Linked DNA regions of Homo sapiens: all the other regions are linked to region 1. Evidence: fine-mapped expression QTL. A gene starts in region 1. Each other region holds a variant in brackets. All regions are shown on one strand. Distances are from middle to middle. Region 1 holds the start of FN3K (fructosamine 3 kinase). Region 2 overlaps TBCD (tubulin folding cofactor D). Region 3 overlaps TBCD (tubulin folding cofactor D).

The links. PIP is the estimated chance that this variant, and not a neighbour inherited with it, causes the effect.
Region 2: its variant is the best candidate, but not a certain one, in a credible set for the expression of FN3K in ileum (GTEx, PIP 0.50).
Region 3: its variant is the best candidate, but not a certain one, in a credible set for the expression of FN3K in whole blood (INTERVAL, PIP 0.83).

Annotation. Positions count from the first base shown.
Region 1 is chr17:82,730,490-82,740,440 of GRCh38, reverse strand. It overlaps FN3K (fructosamine 3 kinase), which reads right to left and starts at 4,826. Exons shown (of 6, transcript NM_022158.4): 1 at 4,664-4,826; 2 at 1,801-1,952. The coding sequence starts at 4,804. RefSeq lists enhancers at 2,946-3,657, 3,658-4,370, 5,083-5,795.
Region 2 is chr17:82,769,920-82,779,870 of GRCh38, reverse strand. It overlaps TBCD (tubulin folding cofactor D), which reads right to left. Exons shown (of 39, transcript NM_005993.5): 6 at 7,364-7,419. Among named protein-coding and RNA genes, the nearest start is that of TBCD, 23 kb to the right of the region's middle. The variant G/A (reference allele first, on the strand shown) is at 5,484.
Region 3 is chr17:82,850,348-82,860,298 of GRCh38, reverse strand. The region is part of intron 13 of TBCD (tubulin folding cofactor D); the gene reads right to left. Among named protein-coding and RNA genes, the nearest start is that of ZNF750, 15 kb to the right of the region's middle. RefSeq lists enhancers at 291-1,066, 9,724-9,951. The variant C/T (reference allele first, on the strand shown) is at 5,982.

The DNA.
Region 1 (9,951 bases):
TTTTTTTTTTTTTTTTTTTTGTAGAGATGGGGTCTCCTCCTGCCTCGGCTTTCCAAAATACTGGGATTACAGGTGTGAACCACCACGCCCAGCACTGGCAAAGACTCTTTCCAGAAAATAACATCATGTAATCACAAACAGGAATTAACCAAGTGAGCTTCAACAGAAGTCTTAGGAGGTACCAGGAATTAAGGGAGGAATGCTGAGAAAGTAATGATAAGTGAAAATGCAGGGCCAAGCATAGTGGCACAGTGGCTCAGGCCTATAGTACCAGGACTTTGGGAAGCCAAGGCAGGCAGATCATGAGGCCAGGAGTTCAAGACCAGCCTGGTCAATATGGTGAAACCCCATCTCTACTAAAAATACAAAAAATTAGCCAGGCATGGTGGTACACCTGTAGTCCCAGCTACTCTGCAGGCTGAGGCAGAAGAATCATTTGAGCCCAAGAGGCAGAGCTTGCAGTGAGCCTAGACTGCACCACTGCACTCCAGCCTGGGCGACAGAGTAAGACTCTGTCTCAAAAAACAAAAAAAAAAGGAAAGAAAAAGCAAAAGAAAAAGATGGACTGGGTGTGGTGGCTCACACCTGTAATCCCAACACTTTGGGAGGCCAAGGCAGGCGGATCACTGAGGTCAGGAGTTTGAGACCAGTCTGGCTAACATGCTACTAAAAATACAAAAATTAGGCCGGGCGCGGTGGCTCACGCCTATAATCCCAGCACTTTGGGAGGTCAAGGCGGGTAGATCACGAGGTCAGCAGATCGAGACCATCCTGGCTAACATGGTGAAACCCCGTCTCTACTAAAAATACAAAAAATTAGCCGGGCATGGTGGCGGGCGCCTGTAGTCCCTTCTACTCGGGAGGCTGAGGCAGGAGAATGGCGTCAACCCAGGAGGCAGAGTTTGCAATGAGCCAAGATCGCGCCACTGCACTCCAGCCTGGGTGACAGAGCGACACTCCGTCTCAAAAAAAAAAAAAAAAAAAATAGCTGCGTGAGGTGGTGGGGTGCCTGTAATCCCAGCCACTCGCGAGGCTGAGACAAGAGAATTGCTTGAACCCAGGAGGCGGAGTTTGCAGTGAGCCAAGATTGCATCACTGCACTCCAGCCTGGGAAACAGAGCAAGACTCTGTCTTGGAAAAATAAAATAAAAATAAAGTACAAAGCAAATGATGGGTTCAAATATACTTATTTTGGGCAGGTGTGGTGGCTCAGGCCTGTTATCCCAGCACTTTGGGAAGCCGAGGTGGGTGGATCACTTGAAGTCAGAAGTTTGAGACCAACTCAGCCAACATGGTGAAACCCCATCTCTACTAAAAATACAAAAATTAGTCAGGTGTGGTGGTGGACACCTGTAGTCCCAGCTACTCAGGAGGCTGAGGTGGGAGAATCATTTGAACCCTGGGGGCAGAAGTTGCAGTGAGCCGAGATTGCACCACTGCACTGCACTCTAGCCTGGGCAACAGAGCGAGACTGTGTTTCAAAAAAAAAAAAAATATATATATATATATATATATGTGTATATATATATATTTTATGCAGCCTCATTACAGCCAAACTTATCTAGGAAAACCAGTCACATACCAGAAAGCAGTAACTTTTTATCTCCATTAAGAATGGCAGGGTGGAACTCTTGGCCCTGCCTCTGATAACCGGGCAGTTGTGTGGACGGCTCAGCCACAGGCTTCTCCCTGTTTCTGTCTCCCTCCCCATCTCTATCCCTTTCTCTGTCTCTCTCTGTTTGTCTCTGAGTCTCTCTCTGCCTGTACACATGTGCGCATATGGGTCTCACACACACTCACCTGCTCAAGCTCTTCATCTTCAAATGCTCCATCACAAAGGCGGCCCCACCTCCCGGCAGGTCGATGACCTTCATGGGCCTCGGCACCCGCACCAGGCCCGTGCTCCTGAGGGCCTCCAGGCTGGCCACCTCCCCCTCAAACATCTGCCGGGCCTGCATCCAGAACACAGCCTTGTCAGCCTTGTTGACTCAGCCAGGGCCTCTGCCCACTGGGCCCTTGACAGAAGCTACCACGTGGGAGTCACAAGGACCTTCATTCACTGATAGCTGGCTCTGGCTGGGAGCTGGCGTCCACCACAGAGGGCAGGGTGCAGAGGGGCCCCCCGTCGGAGACGAGAGGCTGCAAGGCTGAGGCTGAGCCTGGGCCGTGAGGGGTGTGGGGTCTGCAGGCTGCTGTGACAGGAGGATGCACAGGCCACGTGTGGGTGCCCGGGAGCACTGAGGGCGTGGGGAGGTGTGAGTGAACCAAGGTCCAGAGCTGGACCCCCGGGCTACCCACCTTCCTTGCTGCCTCTTAGGGTGGGGCAGCCACAGCAGAGGCCTCACTGGAGCTAACTTGGGCACACACGTCAGGCAGGGAAGAAGAGGGCTGGGCCCATCAGGCGGGGCCTCAGGTCCAGGGCAGGGGCTGGGAAGGTAAAAGGCACGGCACACCCGGCCGGCCCCCAACGCCTCCCGTGGGACCTGGGCCTTCCTGTTTCTGAAATATTCCCACAAACATTCCAGTTTTCAGTTAGGTGAACACTCACCTCACGTACAGTACACATTGGTTGAAAACATGCATTGACGAACGTGGTCCATGAATACCTTGGCCTATAGAATTGCATGTTTGTTTTGAGACAGGGTCTCACTCTGTCACCCAGGCTGGAGGGCAGTGGCATGATCTCGGCTCACGGCAGCCTCCGCCTCCTGGGTTCAAACGATTCTCCTGCTTCGGCCTCCTGAGTAGCTGGGATTACAGGTGTGGGCCACCCCACCCCGCTGTGTTTTTCTGTATTTTTACTAGAGATGGAGTTCCACCGCCGTGCGTGGTGGCTCGCACCTGTAATCCCAGCACTTTGGGAGGCCGGGGTGGGCGGATCACAAGGTCAGGAGATTGAGACCATCCTGGCTAACACGGTGAAACCTCGTCTCTACTAAAAATACAAAAAATTAGCCAGGCAAGGTGGCGGGCACCTGTAGTCCCAGCTACTCGGGAGGCTGAGGCAGGAGAATGGAGTGAACCGGGAGGCGCAGCTTGCAGTGAGCCGAGATCCAGCCTGGGCGACAGAGCAAGAGTCCGTCTCAAAAAAAAAGAGATGGAATTTCACCATGATGGCCAGGCTGGTCTCAAACTCCTGGCCTCAAGTGATCCACCTTTCCTCAGTCGCCCAAAGTGTAGGACTGCATGTTTAAAAAAATCAAACCTCATGAATGAGACCAAAGCATCTGCTGGTGCACACGAACAGAACGCCCTTTCCTTCAAAGTACCCCAGGGAAAGCCCAGGCACAGCCTCCCCAGCCTGGCAGCCCTGGCCAGCCTGCACCGAGGGTGGGTGTGAGTGTCCACAGGTGGGAGGGCGGCCGGCACACCCCAGCCCTGCTCCAGGGCGAGCCCCCCATGCACCAGGCCAGGAACTCCCGGCCTTGGGGCTGCTAAGCCCCAGGGGCCCCAGCATCACCTGCTCTTATGCATGGACTGAGCAGCTACTATGTGCCGGCCCCTCGTGGGGGTGGGAGGGAAGGAGGGGTCTCACCCTGCAGAGCTTTCAGGACCAGCTGAGGAAGTTTCCCAGAGCCCGTGGGAAGCCTGAACCAAAAACTGCTTCCCTGTGAGTAGGACTCCCCACTTTGAGGGATTTGGTTCTGAGCCGGCAGAGCAGGTGATGCCGGAGGATCCGATCGCACGCCCAGGCTGCATGGCTCTGGTGTTCCTCCTGCCAGCACTCCCCACCAGGACCCCTGCTGCCCCTCAGAGAGCTCCCCCACCAGAGTGTGCAGGGCCTTCTGAGCCCACTCGGGCCGGGAGGGCACCCAGGCCTGCCTTTCTCCACCTGCCGGCTCTCAAGGCTGAAGCTAACCTTCTCCACTTCCTCCGTTAACATTTTCCATACTTTTTTTTTTTTGAGACGGAGTTTCCCTCTTGTTGCCCAGGCTGGAGTGCAATGGCGCGATCTTGGCTCACTGCAACCTCCATCTCCTGGGTTCAAGCAATTCTCCTGCCTCAGCCTCCCGAGTAGCTGGGATTACAGGCCAGTGGCACCACATCCGGCTAATTATTGCATTTTTTGGTAGAGACGGGGTTTCACCATGTTGGCCAGGATGGTCTCGAACTCCTGACCTCAGGGATCCACTCACCTCGGCCTCCCAAAGTGATGGGATTACAGGTGTGAACCACCGCGCCCGGCCTTCCATACATTCTTAAACAGAACTATTTTCAGCAGGAGATAGAAATCAGGTCTAAACACAGACAAGGCCTGTGGGAAGGAGAACGCTGGCCTGGCCCGTGGGGTCCCTGCCAGGGGCCCAGCCATGTCTCTGCTTCTTTCCCACTGCCAGGAGGACGGTGGGCTGAGAGGGGCGGCCCAGAGCTGAGCCAAGGACCCCAAGCCTCACATCCCCCGACGCTTGCTGGATAGGAAAGTTAAAACCACCCCTAGAAGCCTGTGCGCTGCGCATGGAGGCCAAAGGAAGGTCACGGATCGTGCAGACACAAACCTTCACAGAACGCTTGAGCCGGGCTCACCCAGCAGGTGCCACCTCCCAAGGGCCAAAGCTGACCCCTCCCCAGGCCCAGCCCCAGGAAATGCGCCTGCCCCCGACCCCTCCGCCTTCCCAGGCCCCGCAGAGACCCGCAGAGCCCCCGCCTGCGCACGGGCCAGCACCTGCGTCCTGCGGTTGACTTTGACGAACACTGGGCCTGCGTCCGTGTCGTAGGCTCGGCCCTCGCTGATGCAGCCGGCGCCGGGGCCGCCGAAGGCCCGCAGGGTCGCGGTGCGCAGCTCGGCGCGCAGCAGCTGCTCCATGGAGTGCGGGGCGCGGGACTCTGCTCGCTCGGAAGCCCCTGTCGGCTGAGGCGCTGCGGGGCGGGGCGGGGCGGGAGCGCGCGGCGCGTGACCCCGGGCGGCGGGAGGGGCGGCCTCAGGCGGGCTCGCCGCGCGCTCCCCGCGTTCGTCCGGCTTCGCGCTTCCTGCGCCCGGGATTCGGGGGAAGCAGCCGGGAGTCCGCGCAGCTCTTCGCGGGCGCGCTGGGGCTTGAGCTCCCTGCAGGGACCCGGTATCCCTGCCCCGCAGCGGACGCAGGTCCGGCCCTCGGCCCGGGCGCTGGTCACAGGCCTGGCCGGCTTCCCACACTGCAGACCAGGCCGGGCCCAGCGGCCCCCGTGATGACGTGGGGCTTGCGCACTGGGACGCCAGGTGCCGATCGGAGAGAGAGGCTGACGTGGGGGCTCCGATGGCACGCGCTGACCCGGCCCAGGGTGGGGCTGCTGATTCCAGGATGTCCTGGGAAAGGGACTTGAGACACAGGAATGCCCACGCGCGCCCATGCATGCATACACGTGGGTACACACGCGTGCACACGAGCAGGTGCGCACCTGAGCCCAGTCCGTGCTGAAGTCATTTGACGTGAGGTTTTTTTATTGTTTGTTTTTTGTGTTTTTAAGAGATGGAGTCTCTGTCTCCCAGGCTGCAGTGCAGTGGCGCGATCTCGGCTCACTGCAAGCTCCGCCTCCCGGGTTCAAGCCATTCTCCTGCCTCAGCCTCCCGAGTAGCTGGGACTACAGGCGCCCGCCACCACGCCCGGCTAATATTTTTGTATGTTTTAGTGGAGACAGGGTTTCACCCTGTGAGCCAGGATGGTCTCAATCTCCTAACCTCGTGATCCACCCGCTCGGCCTCCCAAAGTGCTGGGATTACAGGCGTCAAGCCACCGGCCCGGCCTGCCCAGCTACATTTTGTAGTTTTAGTAGACATGGGGTTTCCCCATGTTGGCCAGGTGACCTGCGTGCCTCAGCCTCCCAAAGTGCTGGGATTACAGCCGTGAACCACCACGCCCGGCCATGCATGAGGTTTTAATCAATAAATCTGTTTTTTTTAGGGCCCCAACAATTGTCTTTTCCCACAGAGATGCAGGGGTCCTGCCGCGGGGAGGGAGCCTTTGGGAGCTGCCTATCCCCGCGGTCCTGCCCACTTGCTCAGCTGGGCTGGGGTCATCGGGAGGCTCCTTAACTCCTACATCTGGCACCTCGGCCAGGATCACTGGAACCTGGGCTTAGCGGTCACTGTCAAGCAGGACATGTCCATGTGGCCTCCTGGTGTGGCCTGAGCTTCCCTGAACATGGAGGCCAGGTTCCAAGAGTGAGCACTGGGAGAGCCAGAGCTCCCAGAGAGCTGGCAGAAGCAAAGGCCTTTTCTGACCTGGCCTCAGAAGCCACACACCATCATTTCCACCTCCTTCCATCGGTCTCCAAAGCCGCAATCAAGGCAAGGGGATCCGCAGCCACCTCTTTTTTTTTTTTGAAACAGGGTCTTGCTCTGTCACCCAGGCTGAAGTGCAATCTCGGCTCACTGCAACCTCCACCTCCCGGGTTCAAGCGATTCTCCTACCTCAGCTTCCTGAGTAGCTGGGATTACAGGCACGCGTCACCACGCCCCGCTAATTTTTGTATTTTTAGTAGAGACGGGGTTTCACCATGTTGGCCAGGATGGTCTCAAACTCCTGGCCTCAGGTGATCCGCCTGCCTCAGCCTCCCAATGTGCTGGGATTACACATGGCACCCGGCCAAGCAGCCACCTCTTGACAGGAGTGGCAGGGCTGCCGCAGAACAGCAGGTAGGACAGGAGGATGACTGTGGTGTCTGCAGAAAGGGCATGTGCCAGTCCCTGGCTTTTTCTCATCTGAAGCCCACCCTGCTATCGCATCTTGACAGAAGGTTCCTGACAGGCCAGTGTGAGCTCTCGTACGTCTGTAAATTTCTTTCTTCCTAGTTGACAGTTTGGCTGGGTATCAAATTCCAGCTTGGAGATCAGACCATGTTCTTTAGGAACCAAGAAGCTGCCAGCTCCAGTTTTGATGTTGAGAAGCTTATGGCCATTTCAGTTCTTATTCTTTGTGTGGAAACTGTTCTATCTCTGCAGGCTTTTAGGGTCTTCTCTGTGACACCAGTGAAAAATTCCCCAGGGAGGTGTCAGGGTGAGTCTCCTGTCATCCCCTGAACAGGACTGGTGGGTCCTCCAATCCTGGGACAGCTTTTAGCCCTTCATGGCGTTCTCCCTCTGTATTCTTGGTTCTCTTTTTTGGAATTCCAACACTGTGGTCTAGAGTCAGTCCTCTCTGTTACTGCCTCAAAGCCCCTTGTAATTTTTCTTCATACAACTCATGAGTCTACAGTCAGATATTAGGCGTCACACAGAGAACCATACGAGTGCTCAGGTCTCTCAGTGAGAAGAGGTGCCTGAATGAAGAAACAGATATGCAGGCACCAGGCTAGGAAGTCCTCTATGTGGGGGGTTAAGAGCTGTTGAAGATTCAAGGGCAGGGCAGTTAAGTGATCCCAAGTTTCTTAGAGAATTAGTAGAGTAAATTGTATGGTGTGCAAATAATACTGTTTTTAAAACGACCTGTATCGGCTGGTTGCAGTGGCTCATGCCTGTAATCCCAGCTCTTTGGGAGGCCGAGGTGGGTAGATCACAAGGTCAGGAGTTCAAGACCAGCCTGATCAACTTGGTGAAACCCTATCTCTACGAAAAATACAAAAAAATTTTAGTCGGGCATGGTGGCACACACCTGTAATCCCAGCTACTTGGGACGCTGAGGCAGGAGAATTGCTTGAGCCTGGGAGTGGAGGTCGTACTGAGCCGAGATCACGCCACTGCATTCCAGCCTGGGTGACAGAACAAGACTCCGTCACAAACAAAACAGAACCTGCCCTCTGTCCGGTTTCCCGTTCTGGGAGTGGTACCACCCATCTTTTTCCCCATCTGCCTGGATGTCTTAGTACAGGGCCTGGTCTGCGGTGCTGGTCAGGTGTCGGGGCCACCCATGCTTGTGATCCTACCATCAGCCCAGAGGAGAGGCGTGGACGGAGTAAAGGTGGGATGTGGACCTCAAGCTGGAGGAATCAAGGAGGACCCAAGAAAGGGGCCTGGCACAGACATGGGCAGGGTGTGGGGAGACCACAGGACAGAGCTGAGCCTGGCTACAGAGCTGGCGCCACCCAGGCCTGGGGTGTGGGCTTGATGAAGGAAGTCTGAGAATGATATCCTAACCTCACCCACCCTCCCCATCTCCTCTCGGCTCCCCTGGGCCACCCCAAGCAGAGGCCAGCTGGTTAATGGAGTGGTTCAGGCAGAGGCGTGGATGGGTGGAGGTGGGATGTGCAGACGTGGCACAGGCTTCAGTGAAATACGTGGACAAGCCGGTGGCACTGCTCCCTCTCTCTCACCACCCTGTCCTGGCCCCTCCATGGCTCCTGGGCCTTTGCCCTTCTCACAGTCCTGCTTACCCACTCACAGGAAAGCCCCCGCCAGCCCTCTCCCTGCTGCCTGGAATTCCCCCTCCAATATACCCCTTACAGTGCACCCCTACATCATCTTTCCAAGATACAGGTCTTCCCCACCCCGAGATGGAGTCTTGCCCTGTCTCCAAGTTGGAGTGCAGTGACACGATCTCGGCTCACTGCAACCTCCGCCTCCCGAGTTCAAGCAATTCTCCTGCCTCAGCCTCCCGAGTAGCTGAGATTGCAGGCGCACGTTACCACGCCCAGTTAATTTTCATATTTATGGTAGAGACAGGGTTTTGCCATGTTTGCCAGGCTGGTCTCGAACTCCTGACCTCAGGTGATCCGCCCACCTCGGCCTCCCAGAGTGCTGGGATGACAGGCGTGAGCCACTGCGCCTGGCCGCTTTAGGCGCACTTTCATTAAAAGGATGAAAAGTAAAACGCTTTGGGACAGAAGGCTTGTCTTCAGGTATCTAAAGATTCACTTCTGTGGAAAAGCTGACGCTCTGACTGTGTTAGATTAGGTGTTTTGATATAATCCCACTTACAGTAAGAAATAAAAAGTGGAGCCACATTGCCCCCAAGATCCCAAAGATGAGAACTGAGAGTCCTGGATGGGAGCTCAGGGCAACTACCATTTCCCTGGACTTCCTCCCCGGAGGTCCTAGCGATGTTCACGGCTGCCCAAAGAGAACAAACCTCTTCCAGCTGTTCCCTTGACCGAGGAGTCTCGGAGCTGTGTCCAGAGCCCAGTCCCTCTGTGCTTTCAGATGTCAACACAGCAGCCTGCAAGGACATAGCACACAGCTGTCCCTTAAAACCATGTCTCCAGGCCGGGCGTGGTGGCTCACGCCTGTAATCCCAGCACTTTGGGAGGCTGAGGTGGGTGGATCACGAGATCAGGAGTTCAAGACCAGACTGCCCAAGATGGTAAAACCCCATCTCTACTAAAAATACAAAACAAAATTAGCTGGGCACGGTGGCAGGTGCCTGTAATCCCAGTTGGGAGGCTGAGGCAGGAGAATCGCTTGAACTCGGAGGGTGGAGGTTGCAGTGAGCCAAGATGTCACCACTGCACTCCCAGATGTCCTGGGCGATAGAGTGAGACTCCACCTCAAAAACAAAAAACAAAAAACTATGCCTCCAAATCAGAACCTATCCCCTCCCCCATCTCTTCCAGCTGAGCCAGCCCAGAAAACAGCACAGCTTTGGATGAGAAGTTCATCCTCTGATGACATGCATATGGTCTCTCATGGACAGAATAATCCAGAAGAATCAACTCTGAGTAGATGCAAGGGCATCTATTGTGCCTGAAGCCTATAGGATTTTGATAGCCCTTTATGAAAAAGTGTGTATATATAAAAATATATAACATGCATATATTATAATAATACAAAATTAGATATTTTAGAATAAGCATTGCATCAACTTACAAATTTAAAATGCTGACACGGGGCCAGATGCGGCGGCTCACACCTGTAATCCCAGAACTTTGGGAGGCCGAGGTGGGCGGATCACTTGAGGTCAGGAGTTCGAGACCAGCCTGATCAACATGGTGAAACCCCATTTCTACTAAAAATATAAAAATTAGCCAGGTATGGTGGCAGGTGCCTGTAATCTCAGCTACTGGGGAGTCTGAGGCAGGAGAATCCCTTGAACCTGGGAGGCGGAG
Region 2 (9,951 bases), 39 kb before region 1:
ACGCGACGCCCACGAGACAGCTACGTGGAGACCCCAGGCAAGGTGAGACGTGGAAGCTGGAGCTGCCAGGCTATGACGCCCAACCTCCCTCCGGCCCCCACGTCATCTCCACTGCAACTTCAACTCCGGCCATCCCACCTTCCCGGCCCTTGTTCCAGCACATCCATCTAGTTGGCCTGCGCGAGAGCCGGCTCCATGCTTCCGTGGGGACAAGCCCTCTCAGGGCACTTAACACACAGGAGACAGCCACGCACGTGCCATCCTACTCGGTCATGGCCCTCACAAAACAGAAGCGCTGCCCAGCTGACAGGACGGCTGGCACCTGCCAACTGCTCGTAACAGCAAGGACCTCTCCCCTCCGCCACTGTCCCTGTGGAGCATGCTTAGGGAGGGGCTCAGCATGAACAATGGGGAAAGAAGTCCCTATTTCCAGAAAGTAAAGAATCATTTGGCTGGGCACAGTGGCTCACCCCTGTAATCCCAGCAATTTGGGAGGCGGAGGTGGGTGAATAGCTTGAGTTCAGGAGTTCAAGACCAGCCTGGTAAACATGGTAAGACCCCCATCTTGGCCAGGCGCAGTGGCTCAAGCCCGTAATCCCAGCACTTTGGGAGGCCAAGGCAGGTGAATCACGACGTCAGAAGTTCGAGAACAGCCTGTCTTGCACCCCATCTCTACTAAAAATATTAAAAAATTAGCTGGGCATGGTGGCGCATTCCTGTAATCCCAGCTACTCGGGAGGCTGAGGCATGAGAATCACTTGAACTCAGGAGGCGGAGGTTGCAGTGAGCCGAGATCTCACCATTGCACTCCAGCCTAGCAACAGAGCAAGACCCCGTAAAAATAAATAAATAAATAAATAAATAAATAAACCCCATCTCTAGAAAATAATACAAAAATTAGCCAGGCATGGCCGGGCGCAGTGGCTCATGCCTGTAATCCCAACACTTTGGGAGGTCAAGACGGGTGGATCACCTGAGGTCAGGAGTTTGAGACCACCCTGGCCACTATGGTGAAACCCCGTCTCTACTAAAAATACAAAAATTAGCCAGGGGTGCTGGCGCACACCTGTAATCCTAGCTACTCAGGAGGCTGAGGCAGGATAATCACTTGAACCAGGGAGGCAGAGGTTCAGTGGAGCTGAGATCACGCCATTGCACTCCAGTAGAGCCAAAATCACGCCACTGCACTCCAGCCTGGGCAACAAGAGCAAAGCTCCGTCTCAAAAAAAAAAAAAGAAAAAGAAATTGGCTGGGTGTCGTGGCATGCGCCTGCAGTCCCAGCTACTGGGGAGGCTAAGGTGGGAGGATTGCTTGAGCCTAGGAGATGGAGGTTGCAGTAAACTGTGATCACGCCACTGCACTCGCGCCTGGGCAACAGAGTGAGACCCTGTCTCGAAAAGAAAAGGAAAGAAAAAAGAAACTCATGTGTCCTCCCCAGGAGAGTTAACTTTAGCGGATCTGCAAAAGGGGCCCAGGGCAGTTAACTTCATCGCAGAAGGAAGCAGCATTAAGGTGGTGACAAACCGTGTTCCCTTTAAAACGCACAGAGTTCCCACAGAGCATTAGAAATGAATGGAAAAGCGGAATACTGTGGGCGGCAAGCCACCCAGGTGCCGAGGCAAGAGACCAAGGACACGAGCTGTTCCAATATAATAAAATATAAAACAAGAATAGTTATACCAGATACAGATCTTAGATATGATTATATATATCATTAATCATTAGTTGGTAGCAATTATTCTTTATTCCAATATTATAATAATCCTCGCTCTATAATCATAACCTAGGAAAAGCCAGGCCATACAGAGATAGGAGCTGAGGGGACATAGTGAGGTGTGACCAGAAGACAAGAGTGCGAGCCTTCTGTTATGCCCAGACAGGGCCACCAGAGGGCTCCTTGGTCTAGCGGTAACGCCAGCGTCTGGGAAGACGCCTGTTGACAAGCGGACCGTGGTCTAGCGGTAGCGTTAGTGTCAAGGAAAAACACCCGCTACTTAGCGGACCGGGAAAGAGAGTCTCCCTTTCCCCGGGGGAGTTTAGAGAAGACTCTACTCCTCCACCTCCTGTGGAGGGCCTGACATCAGTCAGGCTCGCCCGCAGTTATCCGGAGGCCTAACCGTCTCCCTGTGATGCTGTGCTTCAGTGGTCACGCTCCTAGTCTGCCTTCACGTTCCATCCTGTACACCTGGCTCTGCCGTTTAGTTAGCAGTAGCAAATTAGTGAAAAGTCTCTGATAAGCAGAAATAATAATGTAAGCTGTTTATCTCCTTCTCCTCTCTCTCTCTCTGCCTCGGCTGCCAGGCAGGGAAGGGCCCCCCGTCCAGTGGACACGTGACCCACGAGACCTTACCTACCGTTGGAGATGGCTCACATTCCTTACACTGCCCCTTTGTCTTGTATCCAATAATATCAGTGCAGCCTGGCATTCGGGGCCGCTACCGGTCTCTGCAACTTGGTGGTAGTTGTCCCCCGGGCCCAGCTGTCTTTTATCTCTTTGTCTTGTGTCTTTATTTCTACACTCTCTCATCTCCACACACAGGGAGAAACCCACCGACCTTGTGGTGCTGGTCCCTACAGACACAAAATGGCACTAAAGCAACTGGTTACCTACTGGGAAGGGCGGGGTTCTACTGTAGACCAAAAGAAACCCCAAATGAATCAATAATTCTGTCTTAATAAACGGTAGAGAAAAATATAAATGACTACTTGTTAAATCTCTTAATAAGACTGCAGGCTTAAAAGTAAAAATAACTAAATAAAGGAGAAAAAAACGGTTTGACATTAAAATTAAAACTTTGGTCCAAAAAAAAAGGAAAAGGCCAACAACCACCTGGGGCAATACCCATCGCCCTTCACCGGAGGAAACTCACACTCGTGGGGAAGAAAAGGCCCCAAGGAGCCCACAGACACGCAGAGTCAGGTCACGAAGCGGAGTATGTAACACCTAAGGTGAGGGCAATCAGCGTGATGCCAATTAAATACCTGCAATCAGCGACACCATGTTTAATCCAATTTGGGGGTGGGGTGTTCCTGGGGCTGCCTCGGCCACCAAAGCACTGCTCAGAGAGCAGCTGAGAGCCACCAGGTGTGCAGACCCCAACACCACTCTCGTGTCCTGGAACCCAGAAGTCCATCTCTAAGGGCCCATCCTCACGAAACAATCCTGACACGAGAACGGGTCTGTAACCAAACCCAGGCGTCCGTGACTGCTCACAAGAGGCAGGAAGTGACAGAGCTGAGTGCAGTATCGAAACACAGCAGAACACGACGGAGCCATTCATCAGCAGTTACATGAAATCAGGTGAAAAAGCACAGTGCTGACTCTGACTTGTTAAGATCATGCTGTGCACATTAAAAGTCATAACGGTGCAAAGAAGATAAACACGGTACACGCACTGTGTATAAGAATTACCTATATATCTTTTTCCAACTTCTATGTTTCAAGATTTTCAACTTTTTTTTGAGACAGGGTCTTGCTCTGTTGTGCAGGCTGGAATGCAGTGGCGCAATCACAGCTCACTGAAACCTCAACCTTCTGGGCTCAAGCAATCCTCCCACCCAGCCTTCGGAATAGCTGGGACCACAGGTGCGTGCCACCACGCCACGCCAAGATTTCCAACTTTTCTGCATACAGCGTACCTCTTTTTTTTTTGAGATGGAGTCTTGCTCTGTTGCCCAGGCTGGAGTGCAATGGTGCGATCTCTGCTCACTGCAACCTCTGCCTCCTGGGCTCAAGCGATTGTCCTGCCTCAGCTTCCCAAGTATCTGGAATTAGAGGCACGCACCACCATGCCCAGCTAATTTTTTTGTATTTTTAGTGGAGACAGGGTTTCACCATGTTGGCCAGGCTGGTCTTGAACTCCTGACCTCAGGTGATCCACCCGCCTCAGCCTCCCAAAGTGCTGGGATTACAGGCATGAGCCACCGTGCCTGGCGAAAGGCATATCTATTAAAGGGGTTTTTTTTTAATTTTTTTATTATTATACTTTAAGTTTTAGGGTACATGTGCACATTGTGCAAGTTAGTTACATACGTATACATGTGCCATGCTGGTGTGCTGCACCCACTAACTCGTCATCTAGCATTAGGTATATCTCCCAATGCTATCCCTCCCCCCTCCCCCCACCCCACAACAGTCCCCAGAGTGTGATGTTCCCCTTCCTGTGGGTTTCTAAGGCAGCACTCAATCTGCATGTTCTAGCAACACTGTAACACCAAGCACCACCTACAGCGCTGTGGATGTTGGCAAGCTCAGTTAATCAAGGGAGACGGGTGCAGCTGTAGAGCCGCCAGTGATACAGGGAGAAGCATTCAATCCTGAGAGCAAAGTGGGCTAGAGCAGGCTGCTCCTCCCTGGAGAGCAGAAAACGAACCTGTACTGCAGACAAATGCTGGCACAGGACCCCTCGCAGCCCTGGCCTTACCTGAACAATCCTCACCAAAAAGGGGTCTGAGAAGTACAGGAAACTCAGAACCTGCGGTGAGTCTGGGAGGTGTCGAGGGAACCGGCCAAGCACCTGTAAGAGCTCTTCCACTGACGGCATCCGCCATTCTCAAACACTCTTGAGAATCAGTGTGCGAGAGTGTGCGAGACCAAGGGGGAGAAAGGCTCCACGGCACCGACGCCCCCAGGCACCACCTCTCCTGGATCCCAGGCTCAGGTGTTCTGCACGGAAACTGGCTCGGCCGAAAAGCACCTGCTCATCCCGGCACTAGGTGGCGCTGCGGTGTCTCGCCGGGAGTCCGCCCGGGATCCCGAGCCAGCGCGCTCTTTTCCCGGAGGACCCCACGGAGGGAGAAGTACTCAGATGGTGCCTCCTGGCCCACAGGCACCGCACTCCACAGAGCCAAGCTCGGCAAAAATCTACGCAACCCTCAGTACTGCTGCTAAGAAAAGTAAGAATAAAAGCAGATACTATTTCCCATTGAACGAAGTTGGCAAACATTCTTAAGGTTTGACCCAACTGGAAAAGACGGGGAAAGAACTTCCAACTTGTTCAGCCTCTCCAGTAATTGCATTCAGACCCTGAAAACGTGCGTTCCACTTGTAGAAACTCATCCCTAGAAATCAGTCAGAACGGTACACAATTTTACGTGGACTGTTTGCAATATTGAGTTTTAATACCAAATTGGGAGGGCAGCAGTCTAAATGTCCCACCACAAACGACAGGTAGACACACTCGGGTGGGGGGCAGCCCCCGCCCGGCCGCCGCTCCGTCTGGGAGGTGGGGGGTGCCTCTGCCCGGCCGCCAAGTCTGGGAAGTGAGGAGCCCCTCTGCCCGGCTGCCACCCCGTCTGGGAGGTGTACCCAACAGCTCATTGAGAACGGGCCATGATGACGATGGCGGTTTTGTCGAATAGAAAAGGGGGAAATGTGGGGAAAAGAAAGAGACATCAGTTTGTTACTGTGTCTGTGTAGAAAGAAGTAGACATAGGAGACTCGATTTTGTTCTGTACTAAGAAAAATTCTTCTGCCTTGGGAT[G/A]CTGTTAATCTATAACCTTACCCCCAACTCCGTGCTCTCTGAAACATGTGCTGTGTCCACTCAGGGGTAAATGGATTAAGGGCGGTGCAAGATGTGCTTTGTTAAACAGATGCTTGAAGGCAGCATGCTCCTTAAGAGTCATCACCACTCCCTGATCTCAAGTACCCAGGGACAAAAACACTGCGGAAGGCCGCAGGGTCCTCTGCCTAGGAAAACCAGAGACCTTTGTTCACATGTTTATCTGCGACCTTCCCTCCACTATTGTCCTATGACCCTGCCAAATCCCCCTCTCTGAGAAACACCCAAGAATGATCAATAAATACTAAAAAAATTAAAAAAAAAAAAAAAAGACACACTCGGGCCAGGCGCGGTGGCTCACACCTGTAATCTCAGCACTTTGGGAGGCCGAGGTGGGCGGATCATGAGGTCAGGAGATGGAGACCATCCTGGCTAACACAGTGAAACCCCATCTCTACTGAAAATACAAAAAAAAATTAGCTGAGCATGGTGGCGGGCACCTGTAGTCCCAGCTACTCGGGAGGCTGAGGCAGGAGAATGGTGTGAAACCGGGAGGCAGAGCTTGCAGTGAGCCGAGATCGTGCCACTGCACTCCAGCCTGGGAGACAAAGTGAGACTCCATCTCAATTAAAAAAAAAAAAGAAAGAAAAAGAAAAGACACTCTCGCACCAGGTCATCTCGTTTTGGAAGAAGACAATGGCGCACCAGGCCCATCTCCTGGTCCGTGGTGCAAAGAATTGAGTGCAGCAACTGAGCCATGGACAGAGTTGGTGCCGCCCCGCGGGGAGACCATGGACAGAGTTGGCGCCACCCGGTAGGGAGACAGGGGCCATCACACCCCCATGGGATGAAAGCATTCAAAGGTTTTATTTTGTACTTCATGCTCTATTATCTAAATATATACAGATTACTTTAATAATTAGACGATCATCTTTTTATGTCCTTGACAAGACAGGAAGCAGCCTCTGCCCTCTCGGGAGGGGCCTCACCTGCTCCAGGGGACTCAGGCGTTCCTTCCTCAGCTCCAGGCTGTCACAAACCCCTCATCCAATGCCTCCAACTGCCCCACAAAGGAAGCTTCTCTCCTCCCACTTCTCTGGGAAAGAAGCTGTGCAAGTTGCAGCTACACACCCGAGTGAAGGTGACGCTGCATGAGGCACTGACCGTATTCCCAACCACAACCACCGAAAGGTTTTAGGACCAGCTTTCGACTTTCACTATTGCAGAGGGGGAAAATGTCAACTGTTCTGACTTAGTAAACTACATACATACTTAAAATCACATGTCATGTAAAATACTGATTAGAAATATTGCTTTCTTCCTTCTTGCATCTCATGAAACAGGTTCGCTCAGTCTATACACACATCCTTGGTATCTTTCCAACACCGCAGGCCTGCTGCGCTCAGCAGAGAAAACCACCTTCCCCTGTCTGGGGCACACGGGGGGTGCAGTTAATACAGGACGTTGGGGGATTTTCATCCCCAGTCACAGAGGCCCAACACCACCCATCATCTCCATGGGAGACGGCCCGAGATGTTTCTCATAACTGCCACCCCATCCCTGTGCAGGGGCTGCACCCCAGGGATGACAGCCACGCCTCTTCCAGACCTGCACTCCTGTCGATGGGCCTGTCAGGTGACCCCCACCAGCACCCCAAACCACCACTGAGGGTGGTCATTTCAGGGTCAGAGGTCTTCTGTGCCCAAACACTGCTGCACACTCCCTCAGAGAAAGCCACAGAGTCCAAAGACTTCCCGGGGTCCTTCGTCTGAGGACTGAAGACGCACATGAAACACGTACCCAAACAAACCCCTCTCAGAACCCACCAGCCACACACCAAGAAATGTGCCATGGAAACTTACCTGGACACAAGGACAGCAGCTGCATCTCGGGCCTTGTCACTGACAATCAAGTAGGACTGCAAGAAAGGGTGAAGCACAGACACGGTCACTCCTGCACACGCCAGCCTTGGGGACACCACACAGTCACCAGTCCCACCCTCACCAGCTCCCCGAGGGCCCAGGTTCACAAACCTTACCAGCACAGGCCTAAGTCCAAAGCTGCAAAAAAAAACCTCTCTTCAATCTGAGCCAAGGGCTACAGCTGCCAACTGCTACACTCACCCAGGAAGTGCCTGAGCTACACAGAGCATTTGGTCACACCCCCTTGAAACACACATTTGCAAGAACAGAGCAGGAGAATGTAAACAAAGGAGTTACCCAATTGTAACAAAGAATCAAGAGTATTCATTGAGCACCTAATATGCCTTCCAGCACAAGGGAACCATCAGTATTGGAGTATTCAGACTAGATAAGAGGCCCTGTTCAAACTGAAGAGCACCTAGATTTACTACAAATACCTAGTTATTTTTAATTTTTAGTGTTTAATTTTTGGGGTACATAGTAGGTGTATATATTTTTTGTTTTTGTTTTTGTTTTTTTTTTTTGAGACGGAGTCTTGCTCTGTCGCCCAGGCTGGAGGGCCGTGGCGCGATCTCGGCTCACTGCAAGCTCCGCCTCCCAGGTTCACGCCATTCTCCTGCCTCAGCCTCCCCAGTAGCTGGTCTTAGGGTTTTTTTGCTGTTGTTTTGAGACCGGGTCTCGCTCTGTCACCCAGGCTGGAGTACAGTGGTGTGAGCAAAGCTCACTGTAGGCTGGGCACTGCGGCTCACGCCTGTAATCCCAGCACTTTGAGAGGCTGGGGCAGGCGGATCACCTGAGGTCAGGAGTTTGAGACCAGCCTGGTCAATATGGTAAAACCCCGTCTCTACTAATGACACAAAAATTGGCCAGGCATGATGGCACATGCCTGTAATCCCAGCTACTCAGGAGGCTGAGGTGGGAGGATTGCTTGAGCCTCAAAGGCAGAGGCTGCAGTGAGTTGAGATTAGACCACTATACTCCAGAATGGGTGACAGGGCAAGACTCCATCTCAAAAAAAAAAAAACTCACTGCAGCACCAACCTCCCCAGCTCAGATGACCCTCCCACCTCAGCCTCCAGAATAGCTGGGACCAAAGGTGTGTACCACCACACCTGGCTAATTTTCTTTTATTTTTTGGTAGAGACTGAGTCACATTATATTGTCTAGGCTGCTCTCAAACTCCTGGGCTCAAGCTATCCTCCCACCCTGGCCTCCCAAAGTGCTGGAATTACAGGCATGAAACCTCCACGCCCAGCTAGATTTATTTTTCGGAGGGCTGCCTTAAAATGTTTCCAATGCTTGTCTCGGTTTTTTTTGTTTGTTTGTTTGTTTTTTCCCATAACGATACACTTAGAAGATCTTTTTTTCTGGGGCAGGCTTTTTTTTTTTTTTTTTTTTTTGAGACGGAGTCTTGCTCTGCTGCCCAGGCTAGAGTGCAGTGGTGCAATCTTGGCTCACTGCAACCTCTGCTTCCCGGGTTCAAGCAATTCTCTGCCTCAGCCTCCCAAGTAGCTGTTCATTTGTAAGAGAACAGTTGAATAAATATGAAAGGATCACAGGCACTAGCCACCATTCCCGGCTAATTTTTGTATTTTTAGTAGAGATGGGGTTTCACCATCTTGTCCAGGCTGGTCTTAAACTCCTGACCTCGTGATCCACCTGCCTCGGCCTCCCAAAGTGCTGGGATTACAGGTGTGAGCCACCGTGCCCGGCCTCCGGGGCAGGCTTTCTAACGGCAATCACAGAGTGCCAAGTCTTGACAAACCATGCTCCCTTGACCTGGCAGTCCCTCTCCACAGACAAGTAAACAAGGGTGGGTAAACCATACTACTTTTTTTTTTTTTTTTTGAGACGGAGTTTCACTCTTGTTGCCCAGGGTGGAGTGCAATGGCGTGATATCGGCTCACCACAACCTCCGCCTCCCAGGTTCAAGCGATTCTTCTGCCTCAGCCTCCTGAGTAGCTGGGACTACAGGCACGTGCCACCACGCCCAGCTAATGTTGTATTTTTAGTAGAGACAAGGTTTCTCCATGTTGGTCAGGCTGGTCTCGAATTCCTGACCTCAGGTGATATGCCCACCTTGGCCTCCCAGAGTGCTGGGATTACAGGCGTGAGCCACCGCACCCAGCCCATCACCACACTACCTCTAACGTAACAAAACAAGAACAAACAAAACATCCATCTATCAGAGAGAATTTTAAATTAGATTACAATGGAGTACCTTTTCCCTTAACGATTATGAGGGGGACACTTTCTGACATCGTAAGACACTAAGAACGTGTTGCTGAGGGTAAAAAGGACTCAGAACAGCAGGTCATGGGGCAATGCTGAGCCCTGATGAAGAGCACAGACTCCAGATAAACCGCCTGGATTCAAACATGGATCCACCATTTATGAGCAAAGTAAACTAAGTTATTAATTTTTATGCCTGTTGCCTTCTCGGTTAAACGAGGGTAAGAATTGTCAACAGCCTCATGAAGGAGAATTCAATGATTATTAATCACAGTTAATTAATCACTGATGATCTA
Region 3 (9,951 bases), 120 kb before region 1:
CATGCAGGGGGCGGGGGCCCTCCCTGAAGCCAGGGCGCTCCTACCCGCTCTGCTCAACACTGTGCGCTGGCACTCGGAACGCCCACAGCTAATGACAGAGTGGCTCAAGCACAACAACTTGAAAGAAGCAAAAACAGGCATTCGGGAGAATTAAAGGCTTAACCAGGAAGTCAGGGGCCAGTTCTGCCATGACTCACTGCCTAGGACTCCCAGCCCCCATACTCAGACCTCCACTGGCCCCAAGACAGTGTCCCTGGCACAGGCACTTCAGAAGCAGCAGGGCCCAGAGGACGCCATGCTGGAGCTGACACCCAAGGACACATGAAGCCCAAGAGCAGGACCACGAGGCCCAGGCCAGACGGCTGGGGAGGCCAAAGGCCATGTCACCAGTGCACAATGACAAGCCTGCTCCCTGTCTCCAACCCAGTTATCTCAAGGGTTTTCTTTCTGTTCCCAACTCACCGCCCACTGATGAATCTTTCTGGGTCACTGCCATGAACAGGCAGGACAGGTGGCTCTGAAGACACTTTATTCAGGGTGAGTCTGGGCAGCAGCCCCCACTGTGGACTGGAATCTTTCCACAGCCACACTCCCGGCGGGCAAGCCCTGGCCTCCAGCCTCTGCTGGTCCTCAGGAGCCTGTCCACAATTCTGAACTCCAACCTCCACTCTTTGTCCTCACTACAGGGCTCACACTTGGAGTCTGCAGTGCCGGAAACCACAGAGCAACTTCCGTAGCCCTGAAGTCACAGCTTGTGTGTCTGCTCACCCAACAGGACACACAAGGCCCAATCTCCCTGAAAGCCAGTGTGTGAGTGTAGGGAGGACACAGAGCTGGCAGGCCAGACGACCCACGAGACTCTCTTTCCCTGAAAGCCAGTGCGGGGAGGACACAGAGCCGGCAGGCCAGACGACCCACAAGACTCCCTTTCCCTGAAAGCCAGTGTGTCAGTGTAGGGAGGACACAGAGCCGGCAGGCCAGACGACCCACGAGACTCCCTTTCTCTGAAAGCCAGTGTGTCAGTGTAGGGAGGACACAGAGCCGGCAGGCCAGACGACCCACGAGACTCTCTTTCCCTGAAAGCCAGTGCGGGGAGGACACAGAGCCGGCAGGCCAGACGACCCACAAGACTCCCCTTCCCTGAAAGCCAGTGTGTCAGTGTAGGGAGGACACAGAGCCGGCAGGCCGGATGACCCACGAGACTCTCTTTCCCTAAAAGCCAGTGCGGGGAGGACACAGAGCCGGCAGGCTCCCCATGGCCTCTCGGGGCCCCGAGCAAAGACAATGAGGGTGGGACTCAGGGTTGCCACGCAGCCTGGCCCCGGCCTCACGGCCCAAGACCCCCAGCCCCACAGAGGCGCTGAGAGCCGCACTCATCCCCCCGCAGGAAGCGCCACTGACAGCAGTTCTCTTGTCTAGACAAAGTCCCAGCAAGTCTACACGGGGTAGCCCCAGGCAGCCACCCACGAGCCGCACCCTCCTCGCCACCAAGCGGGATCCTAAGACAGCCATGGACCGGCTGAGCAGGGCCCGTTCACACCGACAGGCCCTTCACACACTCAGTCGATTTTCCATCCACAGGAGGGTCAGAAAATATGAAGGTAAGTACAAGGAAAACACAGGAACCTCACCTCAGGCACATTCAAAAGCAACCCTAAAAAGTGTCCTGTGTCTGTGAGGCACACCCAGCGAACCAGGCCGTCCACACAGCACTGTCATCAACAGAAGCCCCAGCCAGCTACTTTCACAAGCAAAACCTGAATTTCAAGTCAACTGGGATCCTCCAGCCGTAGTACCTGTAGAACTGCCCAGCCAGACTGGCCAACCTGCATTTTATTTTAAATGCCGAATAGGCCTGGAGCTAGCAAAAACACGGAAGACAACAAAATTAGGAAGGTGTGAAAGTAAGTTTAGTAGGTAAAGGGTTTCTTCCAGGTAGAAAGATGTTCATTAAAAGATTCATGAAGAGGTTGCTTTCTGCACATGGTGTATAACCAAACCTAACTAGATCACTTCATGTTTATATGTCACAGCTTAGCTTTGATCCAAAAACATGAATTTCAACTTTCAAAAACAACAAAGGCTGGCTGGGCACAGTGGCTCATGTTCGTAATCCCAGCATTTAGGGAGGCTGAGGCGGGAGGATCACTTGAGCCCAGGAGTTCGAGACCAGCCTGGACAACATAGGGAGATCCCATCTCTACAAAAAAATACAAAAGTTAGCCAGGTATGATGGTGTGCCCCTGTAGCACCAGCTACTTGGGAGGCTGAAGCAGGAGGATCGCTTGAGCCTGGGAGGTCAAGGCTGCGGTGAGCTGTGATCATACCACTGTACTCCTGCCTGAGTGACACAGCAAGACCCTTTTTCAAAAAAAAAACTAAAACAAATTAAAATAATGCTAGATGACGAGTTAGTGGGTGCAGTGCAGCAGCATGGCACATGTATACATATGTAACTAACCTGCACAATGTGCACATGTACCCTAAAACTTAAAGTATAATTTAAAAAAAAAATGAAAAAAAAATTAAATTAAATTAAAAAAAAAAAAAAACCATGAGACACAAGCAGCAAGGTTGTATCATTTGTATGGCTCCTGTGGCTATGCCAAGTAATAACACTCCGACAAGCTTCATACTTTCCTGTCATTCAACAATACGTTACTCCATACAGAATCTCAACTCCAATTTAAAAGTGTCAAATATTTAAAACAAAAAAACAAAATACTTTTTAGACACCTGTATATGTGCATGTGTGTATGTACACATCACACACACCCAAAAACTGCACACACACAGAAAAGAACTGAAAAGAGGGAATTAAAACAATGGTGAAATGTTTACATTAAACACGACACAATACAAAGACATTATCAAAAGAAAAAAAAAGACAACCAACAGAATGGGAGAAAATACTTGCAAATGATATATCTGATAAGAGTTTAATATCCAGAAGATACAAACAGCTTTACAACTCAACAACAAAAGGACAAACAATCCAATTTAAAAATGGTCAAAGGACTTGACTAGACATTTATCCAGAGAAATACACAAACAACCAAGGAGCACATGAAAAGATGCTCAGTGTCATTCGTCATTAAGAAAAATTCAAATCAAAATCACAAGATACCCCCTCACACCTACGAGGCTGATTATAATTTTTTAAAAAAGAACAACACAGGTGTTGGTGAGGACATGGAGAAACCAGAAGCTCTGCGCCTTGCTGGTGGGAATGCAGGGCAGCACAGCGTCTGTGGAAACAGCTTGGGGACGCCTCAGTAACACACCGAGGGTCCGCACGCGGTCCAGCGATCCCGCCCTGGATGCGCACCGAGGGTCCGCACGCGGTCCAGCGATCCCGCCCTGGATGCGCACCGAGGGTCCGCACGCGGTCCAGCGATCCCGCCCTGGATGCGCAGCGAGGGTCCGCACGCGGTCCAGCGATCCCGCCCTGGATGCGCACCGAGGGTCCGCACGCGGTCCAGCGATCCCGCCCTGGATGCGCAGCGAGGGTCCGCACGCGGTCCAGCGATCCCGCCCTGGATGCGCAGCGAGGGTCCGCACGCGGTCCAGCGATCCCGCCCTGGATGCGCACCCAAAAAAGGGGAAGACAGGGATTCAAACAGACACTTGTACGCAAACGTTCACAGAAGCATTCTTCACAAGGGCCAAAAGGTGGGAAAACTTAAGTGTCCGTCAACTGTGTAAGGGCCCTGATAGCATTCATCAAGCTCTGTCCCTGTGACTCATCATCTACGAAAGGCCACACCTAACACTGTGCCCTTGGGAGTCAGGATTTCAGCAGGAATTTTGGGGAACGCAAGCATTGGGGCGTCTGTTTTTTTTCTTTTTTTCTTTGTAGAGACAGGGTCTCACCATCTAGCCCAGGTTGGTCTTGAACTCCTCGCCTCAAATGATCCTCTCATCTTGGCCTCCCAAAGTATTGTGATTACAGGCATTAAGCCACTGTTACTGGCCCCAGCTTTCTTTTGGTTAGTGTTTTCTCAGCATATTCTTTTCTGTCTTTCCTTTTAATCTTTTTATATTCTTGCATTTTAGATGTATGTTGAGTAAAATTCTACCATATGATTTTAAGCTGGTGAGTTTAGTCCATTTACTTCACTGACATGTTTGGGTGTCTTTGTCTTACTATATGAATTTTGCTTTTTCAGATTCAGGCTCATGCCTGTAATCACAATACTTTGGGAGGCCAAGATGAGAGGATCATTTGAGGCCAGGAGTTCAAGACCAACCTGGGCTAGATGGTGAGACCCTGTCTCTACAAAAAAAAAAAAAAAAAAAAAAAAAGTGGGGGGGGAGTCTACCCATACAAAGCAATATTATTCAGCCATAAAAACAAATGAAGGCCTGACACATGCTACAATACAGATGAACCAGGCACAAAGGGTCACGCATTGCAGACTCCATGTGTATAAAATTCTCAGAATAAGTAAACGTAGAGGCAGAAAACAGCCTGGCAGGTGCCAGGGGTTGGGAATACAGTCATGTGTCGTGATGTGTCATGACTATGTGAATGGACACCAGAGTATTTTTTCGGTGACAAAAATGTGTTAAAAGTAGACAGAAGTAATAGCTGTGCAACATTGGGTATGTACTAAATGCTCTGAGTTTTTCACTTTAAAGTTAATGGTTATTTTTATGTTATGTGAAATTTTACCTCAAAACACAAATACACACAGAAAGAGAGAAATGACTTTTTAAGAGCAAACACCTGGCCAGGCACAGTGGCTCACACCTGTAATCCCAGCCCTTCAGGAGGCCGAGGTGAGTAGATCACGTGAGCCCAGGAGTTCGTGACCAGCCTGGGCAACATAGTGAGATCCCATCTCTTCAAAAGATAAAAAAAATTAGCCGGGCACGGTAGCATGCACCCATAGTGCCACAGTGACTTGGGAGGCTGAGGTGGAAGGATCGCTTTAGTCCAGGAGGCCAAGACTGCAGTGAGCCGCGACTACACCATGGCACTCACTCCAGCGTGAGCAACAGAGTGACCCTGGCTCTAAAAAATTAAAAAAAAAAAAAAAAAAAAAAAAAAAAAAAAAAAAGCAAACACCTTTCCCTGCCCCTCTGGAAAATTCAGTCTTGAAGCATCAGGTGGCACCGCATAGGGTCTGCACATCCAGGAAGGGGTGGTGGGGGCCAAAGTGGCCCATATGGGGCGAAGAGGGGTCCGTGAGGTGGACAGCAGGGTGAGGGGGCAGCTGGCAGGCGGAGGAAGGCCACAGGGAGGAAGGCCACAGGGAGATGCGACGCCCCAATGCTTCTGTTCCCCAGAATTCCTGCTGAAATCCTCACTCCCAAGAGCACGGTGTTAGGAGGTGTGGCCTTTCGTAGATGATGAGTCCCAAGGACAGAGCTTCATGAATGCGATCAGGGCCTTTACACAGAGCTTTGCTTGTCTTGTGATTGGCACTGTTAAGTGGCTTGTGTCCACTGCGATGCTGACAGATCCACTCTTTCAATACGTGATAGAAATTTCACGTGTAGCTTTGTGCAGGGTTTTTCTGGTCATCGTTTCCAGCACAGAACGTCAACCATTCCTCCTGTTTCTTAGGTCATCTCTGGCACTCACTCCAGCACCGTGCTCTTACACTGCTGCCCAGCTCCCCCCAGCAGTCTGACTTTCTGTGCGACATGCAAACGTGAATGCTTGCCCCTTTTCTGACCACTGTTACCCATACAAGTAACCTGCAGGCCTTTCTGACATTTTCAACAGTATCTGTACACCCCCATACAAGTAACCTGCAGGCCTTTCTGATGTTTTCAACAGTATCTGTACACCACAGAGCAGAGGATACGCAAACACACGAGCGGTGCGCACAGGTCTCGCCCATGTGGAGCCTCATAAGGAGCCTGCAGCGCCTGCGTCCGGCCTGCACCCGACATTTCATCGCCCTTTGTGGACGTGCTTGCATGAGGGAACCTGGTCTTATGTGGAAAGGATTTATCAAAGCTGAAGGGGG[C/T]TGGGAGGATCTTTTTCCCCTTGGGGTGCTGAATCAACTGTGTGTTGTTTACCTGTGTTTTGACTGCAGCCCATCACCTGCAGAGTGTCAACTCAGCATTCAAAAAGTTTTCGGTTTTGGATTTTCGGATTCAGGGTGCTCAACCTGTAATGTCTAATGTTAAACAAGAAGAACTAAAAACTCAACAATGTCAAATATGTCAGATGGAAAGTGATCGAGGTCAGGGTGTGCTGTGTGTTACTTGGAGGGTAGGCTAAGAAGCTGGCTGTTGGCTCTGAATATTCGTGGTACAAGCTGAATACGACCCCTGAAGAAACACAGGAAACAGAATAGATGATTCCAAACCAACAAGGAAGAAGATGTGGAATGGGACTGGGTTGGGGGCCCAATAGGAACCACAACTTTTAAAAACAAAAAAAAATCTGAAAAAGCAAAATTCATATAATAAGACAAAGACACCCAAACATGTCAGTAAAGTAAATGGACTAAACTCACCAGCTTAAAATCACATACGGTAGATTTTTACTCAACATACATCTAAAATGCAAGAATATAAAAAAATTAAAAGACAGAAAAGAATACACTGAGAAAACACGAACCCAAAGAAAGCTGGGGCCATTAACAGTGGCTCATGCCTGTAATCGCAATACTTTGGGAGGCCAAGATGAGAGGATCATTTGAGGCGAGGAGTTCAAGACCAACCTGGGCTAGATGGTGAGACCGTCTCTACAAAAAAAAAAAGAAAAAATGAGCTGGGTGTGCTGGCAAACACCTGTAGTCTCAGCTACTTGTGAGGCTGAGGTCAGGGGATGGATCTAGCCCATGAGTTCAAAGCTACAGTGAGCCGTGAGTGAGCCACTGCACTCCAGCCTGGGCAACAGAGCAAGACCCTGACTCAAAAACAGAAAAAAAAAAGGAGGGGGGGTGTTGCTGGATGCAGTGGCTCAAGCCTGTAATCCCAGCACCTTAGGAAGCTGAGACAGGTGGACTGCTTAAGCCCAGGACTTTGAGACCAGCTACATGGCAAAACCCTACCCTTACAAAAAAAGAAAAAGAAAAAAAATACGACAATTAGCTGGGCGTGGTGGCACATGCCTGTGGTTCCAGCTACTCAGGAGGCTGAGGTCAGAGGATCACTTGCGCCCAAGAGGTCAAGGATGCAGTGAGCTATGATCACACCACTGCACTCCAGCCTGGGCAACAGAGCAAGAACCTGTCTCGACAAAATAAATTAATTTAAAAAAAAAGAGAGAGAGAAAGCTGAGTAGCCACATTCACATCGGGCATAAAGAGGCACTCTCCATCACGAGCTCTCGTCCTCGGGAGCCGCTCTCCATCATCATCACTAACCTCAAAACAGAACGCATCGCAAGCCAGACACGGTTCTGAGCTCTGAATACGTTCATTCCCTTAACTTTCCGAACAGTCCTATGCTCCAAGCCCAGGCCTATACCCAAGACAAAAACCACATCCACACAAAAACTCACACACGAATGCTTTATTCACAGCAGCCTACAGTGGGAAACAACCCAAACGTCTACCAACTGACAGATGGATAAATAAAATGCGGCCTCCATGTACGTCGTGGGCTGAATTCTGTCTCCCTGAAATCCACATACTGAAGTCTTAACCCCAGTGCCCCCGAGTGCCTGTATCTGGAGATGTGGCCCTTAGAGATGCGTAAGGTAAAATGAGGCCACGCAAGTGGGGCCCGGATCTGCTATGACCAGTGTCCGCCTAAGAAGAGGAAACAAGGACACCAAGACACAGACCGAACGGCGAGCACGCAGCAGGAAGGCAGCGCCTGCAGGCCCAGGAAAACCCGGAAGAAACCGAGCCTGCTGCCGAGCCTGCTGGCACCTCGACCTTGGACACCCAGCCTCCAGAACTGTGAGGGATACATTTGTGCTGCTTGAGCCCCCATCTGTGGTGACTTGTTTCCACAGCCTGAGCTGACTAAGATGCCACACGATGGAACAGGCTTCAACAAGGAAAAGAAAAGGAGCACTGCTGGGGGCTGCATCGCCCACGGACCACGCCAACGCCACGCTCGGGGCAAGGAGCCACCACAGAGGACCACAGGGGGCACGGTTCCATTCACAGGAAATGTCCAGAATGGGTAGACACAGAGAACCCATCTGTGGTGTCTAGGAGGGGGGGTTTATCCATCTGTCGGGGGGGTTGGGGATGACAGCGAAGGAGCGTGGGGTAAAATGTTCTACAACTGACTGTGGCGATGGCTGCAAAACTCTGCAAATGCGTTACAAGCCACTGAACTGTACACTTAATGACAGAACTGAATGGCATGTGAATTGCGTCTCAACAAAATCATTAAAAATCCTATGGGGTCAACAGTAATCGTTCCCGCTTACAAGCAGATGCGCTGAAGCAGTGAGGAGTCACTTTTCTATTCCCACCTGGGTCAACTTTGATAAATTACATTTCTCTCGGAACGTCTATTTTGCCTAAGCTACCAAATTTCCTGGCAAAAGATATTCTTAACATGCCATTTTCCATCTCCACGGTGGCTGCACGAGGGCTCCCTTCCGTGTGTAAGGCTCCTGCTTTCTGCCCGTCGGCCACGCGTTTATTGGTCCCATCAGCCCTCTCGAAGAGCTGCGTTTGGCTCTGTGTGTCCTCTCTCATCTTTGTCTTCCACCTCCTTCATTTCTAGGGTTCTGCTCACTGCCCTCTTCCCACCCGCCCTGTGCAGAGTGAACCTTTCTCCTTTTCTGTACACGTGTCTGAGGCCGAGTCACCAAGTGATTCCTGCCAGGGCCAGAGAGAACCTCGGGCCCTGTGGGCCACATGCAGTCCACATCGCAGACTCTGCTTGGTTGTGTTTATTCTCATTGATAACATTTTTAAAATGTGAAAACCCTTCTTGGCTCCAAAGCTGTACAGAAACAGGCTGAGGCCCCACTGGGCCTGCAGGCCACAATTTCGTCACACCTGTTTAAAGGTTTAAGTTTCCTTAGCTGCATCCCAAAATTTTAGATAGAATAATTTTGTGACTGTTTATTTTTATTTTTAAACTTTTTTAACTTTTTATTTTAAAACCTCCTGAGACTTGACTCATGTGATTTACACATTTGTATATCTTCTAACTAAAAATTATCACCTTTCCTTTATTATTCTGTATCCAGTTTTTAATTTCATTACTTTGTGAGCATGGAATACCATCTGTCCGCCAGTGAGTCTCTGAAATGTCTCGAGACTTGTTTTATGGCCTGGCTGTGTAATATCTGTGAATGTTCCTCAGGTGCCTACAAATGTGTATTCTCCAACGGCTAGCTACACGGTTCTGTATCAATTATGGAATCATGCCAGTCGCCTCTGCTGTTGAAATATTGTATGTGCACACACAGTATGTAATGTGCGTTTTATACATATCTATATCTCCACTACATATTTAGTTATCAATAATTGGGAGGTGTTTTGAGCTCTCAGGAGGATACCGGGTCTGTCCATTTATCTCTGCAGACCTATTAACTTTTGCTTTTCAGCTTTTAGAAAGCTGAGTCAGTCCAGACTCACCACAAGCCCCATACGAATTCAATGCAGGGATGGATCAGGGCTGATGAGGCCATGGGGGCCAAATCACCAGTCCATGCACAGCCATACTGTAGGGGGTCCGGGGTCAGCACACACAACCAACAACAGCACAGCCAACAACAGCACAGCCAACAGCAAAACAGCACAGCCAACAACAGCACAGCCAACAACAGGACAGCCAACAGCAGCACAGCCAACAACAGCACAGCCAACAACAGCACAGCTAACAACAGCACAGCCAACAACAGCACAGCCAACAGCAAAACAGCACAGCCAACAACAGCACAGCCAACAACAGCACAGCCAACAGCAAAACAGCACAGCCAACAACAGCACAGCCAACAGCACAGCCAACAACAGCACAGCCAACAACAGCACAGCCAACAACAGGACAGCCAACAACAGGACAGCCAAC